Linked DNA regions of Homo sapiens: region 2 is linked to region 1. Evidence: fine-mapped QTL for protein levels in blood plasma. A gene starts in region 1. The other region holds a variant in brackets. All regions are shown on one strand. Distances are between the middles of the regions. Region 1 holds the start of C1QC (complement C1q C chain). Region 2 has its middle 8.2 kb from the start of MIR6127.

What was found. A credible set is the group of variants that fine-mapping cannot tell apart. PIP is the chance, under the fine-mapping model, that this variant and not a neighbour inherited with it causes the effect. Sun 2018 read protein levels with aptamers (SomaScan).
Region 2: its variant is the best candidate, but not a certain one, in a credible set for the plasma level of the C1QC protein (Sun 2018, PIP 0.87).

What each region holds. Positions count from the first base shown.
Region 1 is chr1:22,642,181-22,645,088 of GRCh38, reverse strand. C1QC (complement C1q C chain) reads right to left here and starts at 1,456. Exons shown (of 3, transcript NM_172369.5): 1 at 1,375-1,456; 2 at 885-1,078. The coding sequence starts at 1,065.
Region 2 is chr1:22,623,679-22,626,586 of GRCh38, reverse strand. No RefSeq gene overlaps it. Among named protein-coding and RNA genes, the nearest start is that of MIR6127, 8.2 kb to the left of the region's middle. The variant G/A (reference allele first, on the strand shown) is at 1,279.

The sequences.
Region 1 (2,908 bases):
CTCTGTCACCCCATCACCTCCGCTCAGTGTCACCCCAGGCCGGCTCCAGGCATGCCTAGCATCTGAGACGTGCCCAGCTCACTCACAGACAAGGCACTCATACCCCCCAGGGCTCCAGTTCCAGCCCCAGTCACCCATTCATAGCCTCAGCCCCCTTCTCTTATGCCAAGGATTGCCTGTGGACCTCCAACAGAAGTTTCTCTGGCTGCGATCCTGACCTCCTACTCCCCACCCCTCCAACTATCCAGAATCCTAAGGAGGGAGGTGAGCATGGATATCTGATAAAACCAATGATAAAATAGCCTACACCTGTATAGACCTCCCAGGTGCTCAGGGCTGTTTTATATTTAAGTTAACTTAATCCTCACAGCAACCTTGTGAAGCAGGTGCTACCATCTCCTCGTTTTACAGATGAGGAAACTGAGGCACTGCGAGGTTAAGTAACTTGTGCGGGTTCACATAGAGGGAATCAGTAGGGGCTGGGATTTGAACCCTGGCAGTCGTGCATTGGATATATTCACTGTGTGGGCCCCAGCTTCCCCAGGTGCCCATGTTGCAGGGCAAGAAGACTTTCCCTGCACTGTCTCCTGTGAGCCTCCTGGCCACCTTTGGGGGCAGGCGCTCTTATTCCCTCCCTATAATCGGGTAAGGAGGAGAAGGAAGATGGAAGTGCGCTGGGCCCAAGGTCACCTCTGGGGTGGCCTGAAGCCTGGGCTCTGAGGATAGAGGAGCCAGACACACCGTGAGAGTCCACCTCTGCCCTGGGGCAGGCGTGGCAGCAAGGCAAGCACTTCCTGCTGTCCCCCGCCCCCTTGGTCAGCCCCAGACAGACACTCTGATCCCTGCCCCAGACCCAAACCCCCAAACCAGGCCAGCAGACTCACCTGGCTCCCCCTTGGGCCCCGGCAGTCCGTCGTACCCATCCTTCCCTGGTGCCCCGGGCAGGCCGGGCATCCCTGGGATCCCGTAGCAGCCTGTGTTGGCTTGGCCCCTGAGGGGCAGCAGCAGCAGGAGCAGCAGCAGCTTCAGCCCAAGGTGGGGCAGGGAGCTGGGCCCCACGTCCATCCCGGAGAAGGAACTGGGAGGGAGAGAGCTGAGCTGTCCCCGCCAGCCCCTCACCTGCCCCCAACCCTCTCATTCCCCAGGGCCCGTCCTCCTCAGCCCTCGGGAGCTCGCCTTCCTTCCTCCCCCAGGAGCCTCACCATGGATGGATGGTGGGGCCTTTTCTTCAGCCCAGGCCCCGGGGCCCAGCAGGAGTGGGAACCCTCCTTCCCCTCACACACCAAGCTGCCCCTGGCACCACATTTCAGGAAGGTGGCGGAAGGTGGAGGAAACGGCCATCTGCCCATACCTGGGCAGGGGTCCGGGCCTCACCTGCAGGTGGGCGGTTTCTGGCCTGGCACAGAGATGTCCTCAGATCTGCTTCCCCTCTCCCAGGCAAGAGGACACGGTGTCTGAGTGGTCAGAGCAAGGATTGCCCAAAGCAGGGCTGGGCCCCCTCCCCTTCTCGTGCCCTCCCCCAATCCCACATCCCCTTTCCCAGAATTTTCCCTGACTTGACACTTTCTTTTGGGTGCTGAGCCAGACTGACCACAGCAATACCCCATCCACATCCCCCCACCGGCAGTCAGTGTCCGAAATGAGGAACTGTCCCCTGCCCCAGCATCTGGCTGAGGGTGTGTGTGTGTGTGTGTGTGTGTGTGTGTGTATAAACACAAGCCCCCAGGGCACAGACGTCCCCCAGAGTCAGGTTCATCCCATCTAATGACCAATGTTAGCATTTGCTTTGCCTGAGACTCAGTTTTCCCAGAATCCCTAGGAGGAAGTTATTATCCCCCTTTACAGATAAGGAAACAGGCTCAGGAGGATGTACACCGTTGCCCAAAGTCACACACTGAGTGGTCTCTTGGGGCCCAAAGCCTTGCTCTGACCCCTCTGCTCAGCTGCCCCCAGAAACAAGCCTCACATGCACTTGTCAAGTTGCAAGCCTTGTTCTAGAAACTTCCATGTGCCCCATCCCAGTGGCCACACTTGGAGGTGGACCCCCAGGATGGACCCGCTTTGGCGGCAGGCAGCTGTTGTGGTGCACGGGCTGCCCTGGCTACAGAGCCAGGGCCCTGGCTTCTCCTTCCAGCCCTGTCACTGCATGGACCAGATGCCTTCAGCAAATCACTGGTCCCTCTGGCCTCCCTTCTGTCTACTGGGGTGGCCTTGGCTTTCAGTATTGGTGCCTCTTCCTTCGTTGGGGCACCTGGTCTTCCCTGACGGTTCCATCTTCCCTGCCAACACCACCCTCCTTGCCTGCATCCTGGGGGTGCCCTGCCTCTGGGCTTGGAGCCCACCATGGCTGGTGAGGGGCTCCCCATCAGGACCAGGCTGGCAGAGCTGAGAGGCCTTCTCCCCTCTCCCTCTTCTCCTCACATGAGATTCTAGGGATGAAGGGGCTGTCAGGCAGTAGCAGGGCTCCAGCCTCGACCCCACACCTGCCACCTGTGTCCATTGGTTCCCCCTCTGTAACATGGAGGCTTCTTACAGCTCCAGGCCAGTGGCTGGGATTCAGTGCACAACACACGTGTGATGCCTTGTCCCGTGCCAGGTATGGGCAGGTGTTCAGAGCTCTTCCCCTGCCTCACTGAGGAACCCTCAGGGTCTCAGTCTCCCCTTCTGTGTCTCCACCACGTGCCATGGGACTGCAGAGAGTGTGGGGTGAGTTAAGGGGCATGAACCCACTTGGCCCTAGGAGTCCCTGGTGGGTGGAAGCCTGGGCCGAGAAGAAATGATGGATACTGCATTATGGGGCTGGGGGCCACCCAGCCTAACGGCTCTGGGCTCCTCTCCTCCCTCTTCACCTCCTCTGCGCCTGGGTTCGGCTTGTCCAGCAGGTGGCAGCCTCGGCCCACGCTCAACC
Region 2 (2,908 bases), 19 kb after region 1:
CCACTGCCCTGTCCGCACCCCCCTCTCCCAGCCCTCTGCTGATTACAAATAAACACCCGGTCTATGCAGGAGAGTAATTAACTCTCCAACGTGGGGAGGACTAATCAGCCTGGAGTTTGCTGCAGGTGGGAAAAAGCGAAGGCGTTTCCTAAGTAGTATGCAAATGAGCCTATAGTATGCAAATGAACCCCTCCTGCTCCTGCAAAAAGCTGTCAGAGTAGGAAGCGCTGCTGCTTCCAGGGACAGGCTCTGGGAATATGGCCCGGCTGCAGGGGCTTGGGCCTTTAGGTTTAGGGGGGTTGGGAGGTCAGAATAGGAGTAGGGGTGGGGCTCACCTTGAGGGTCTCCAGCACACCTGCAGCCCTTCCATGGGACACTGTGGGGATGGCAGAGGGAAAAATAGGTATGGGGCTCAGAGAAGTGGCTCTGAATCTGAATACCACTGTCCTCACCTGGGTGACCTTGGTCTTTGTCACCGTGCTCTTGCTCTGCTGCAGAGGTCATGGAGTCCTTGCACTGCCGTGGGTGGAGCCACGGCATTCAAGTGGCCTGGCTTGCTGAGGTTCTGCATGAGGGACAACTGCTCTGGAGAGACACCCAGACCCACGACAGGCTTTGCAGGAGTGGAGAGTAAGGCTTTGTGGTGTTAAGCCCCTGTGATACAGTTGTTACTGCAGCATAACCGAGCTTCTCTTGACGGATACAGCAGAGGATGAACCCACTAGAGAATGATTATTACATGAACATTGTTGTCCTCATAGTCTTCATCACCCTCCCCTCCTCCCTTTACCTTGTCAGGGCTGTCGTTGTCTCTGACAACATCCTCATAGAACCCTTCTAGCAACACCATCCCTAACGGGTCCCAGTGGAGCTGTCCGGGGTCCTGTCCTCAGCCTGAGCACTCCAACGTTGCCCAGACTTTCATCGGTTCTGTGCCATTGGGCTGGGCACCCAGGAATCTAAAATGAAAAACATCCAGATGTACCTTTGGAGAGCTTGCATGCTGCTGCAGAGGCAGACATAGGAATAACTCCAGGACTGAGCAGGCCATGGGGCCCCAGAGACACCCAGAAACAAGCAGTGGGTAAGACAAGAGTCACCCCAGTGCAGCAATCTTGGGAGACTTCTCAGAGGAGGAGGCAGGAGGTGGCAGCAGTGACTCACCTTGTTGCTCATAGGCTCCTCTCACAATTCAGGTCTGAGTCCCAACTCCTCTTCTTCCCACTGTGTAGCCTTGGGGCGCACAGTGGAATCTTCCTTCCTAAAGCCTTAGTTTTC[G/A]CATCTGTGAAATAGGACAGTAAAAGTACATCTTCATGGGATATTGCAATGACTGAGTGGATTAGTATGTGTGAGGTGCTTTACTCAGTGCCTGGCATGCAGTAACGTGCAGTAAACAGTTGTTCTTATGACCTTGTTTGGCCTTTGCAACAACCCTGTGAGAGAATAGAAATAACTAGCGTTATCACTGTTGCACAGATGAGAAAACTGAGGCTCAGAAAGGGCAAGTGACTGGCCTAAAACCACACAGTTAAGAGCTGGCTGAGCGTGGACTGGAAGCCGGGCCTGTCTGGCTCTGAGCCTACGTTCACTGTGCTGCTTGGGGTTAGCATTTGTGCCCTCAGACCTTGGATCTCACCTGCTTATTCTAGCCTGGCCGTATCTCCCACTCTTTCCATGTCTCGAACCCCCAGCCTGACCCTTTGAGACCCCACTATTTTTTTATTGTGATAAAATATACATACCATAAAATTTACCATTTTAACCATTTTAAGGGTGCATTTCAGTGGCATGAAGAACATTCATGCGACCATTGGTATGCAGCAATGCTCTTTGTCACCGTGCAAGAACATTGTTATGCGACCATCACCACCGTCCATCTCCAGAACTGTTACCATTTCATACTGAAACTCTATACCCATTAAACCATAAGCCCCAACCACCCTGACAGCCACCATCTCATTCTGTGCCTCTGTGAATTTGACTATTCTAGGCACTTTGTTTTTCTTTGACCTTGTGCAGTGGCACGATCTCGGCTCACTGCAACCTCCACCTCCCAAGTTCAAGCGATTCTCCTGCCTCAGTCTCAGTAGCTGGGATTACAGGCGCAAGCCACCACACACAGCTAATTTTTTATATTTTTGGTAGAGACGGTGTTTCACCATGTTGGCCAGCCTGGTCTCGAACTCCCGACCTCAAGTGATCCGCCCGCCTCGGCCTCCCAAAGTGTTGGGATTACAGACGTGAGCCACTGTGCCTGACGGTACTTTGTGTAAGTGAAATTATGCATCCTTTTGTGACTGGCTTTTTTCACTTAGGATAACGCCCTCAAGGCTCATCCGTATTATAGCATAGATCAGAATATCATTCCTTTATAAAGCTGACTAATATTTCATTGTATGGACAGACCGTGTTTTATTTATCCATCCATCCAGTGATGGACAGTTGGGTTATTGCCACATTTGGCCATTGTGAATAATGCTGCAATGAACACAGGTGTACAAAGTCACCACCTTCCTGAGACCTCCATGGGCGCCACTCCCCAAGAGCTTTGCCAGGATCCACAGGTCCCAAACTGCCCATGATCCAGGAACCAGGGCCCACCCAGCCCATCACCCACTGGCCGCCTTGCTTCCCCCTGAGCTCTGTGCCTTTGCTTTCCCTGCCTGGTGTGTCTTTCCCCAGCATCTCCATCATCCAAAGCCACTCGCTCATCAAGACTCATCTTGAATGTCCCCCGCCCACACCCATAGCCTTCTCTACTTTCCTTGTACTGTGTCCTACCTCTAGCCCCCACCCTCTGTCTGTCCCTCACTTAGGTCTCTGATTATTATTATTATTATTATTATTAGTAGTAGTAGTAGTAGTAGTAGTAGTAGTAGTAGTAGTAGTAGAGACGGGGTTTTACCAT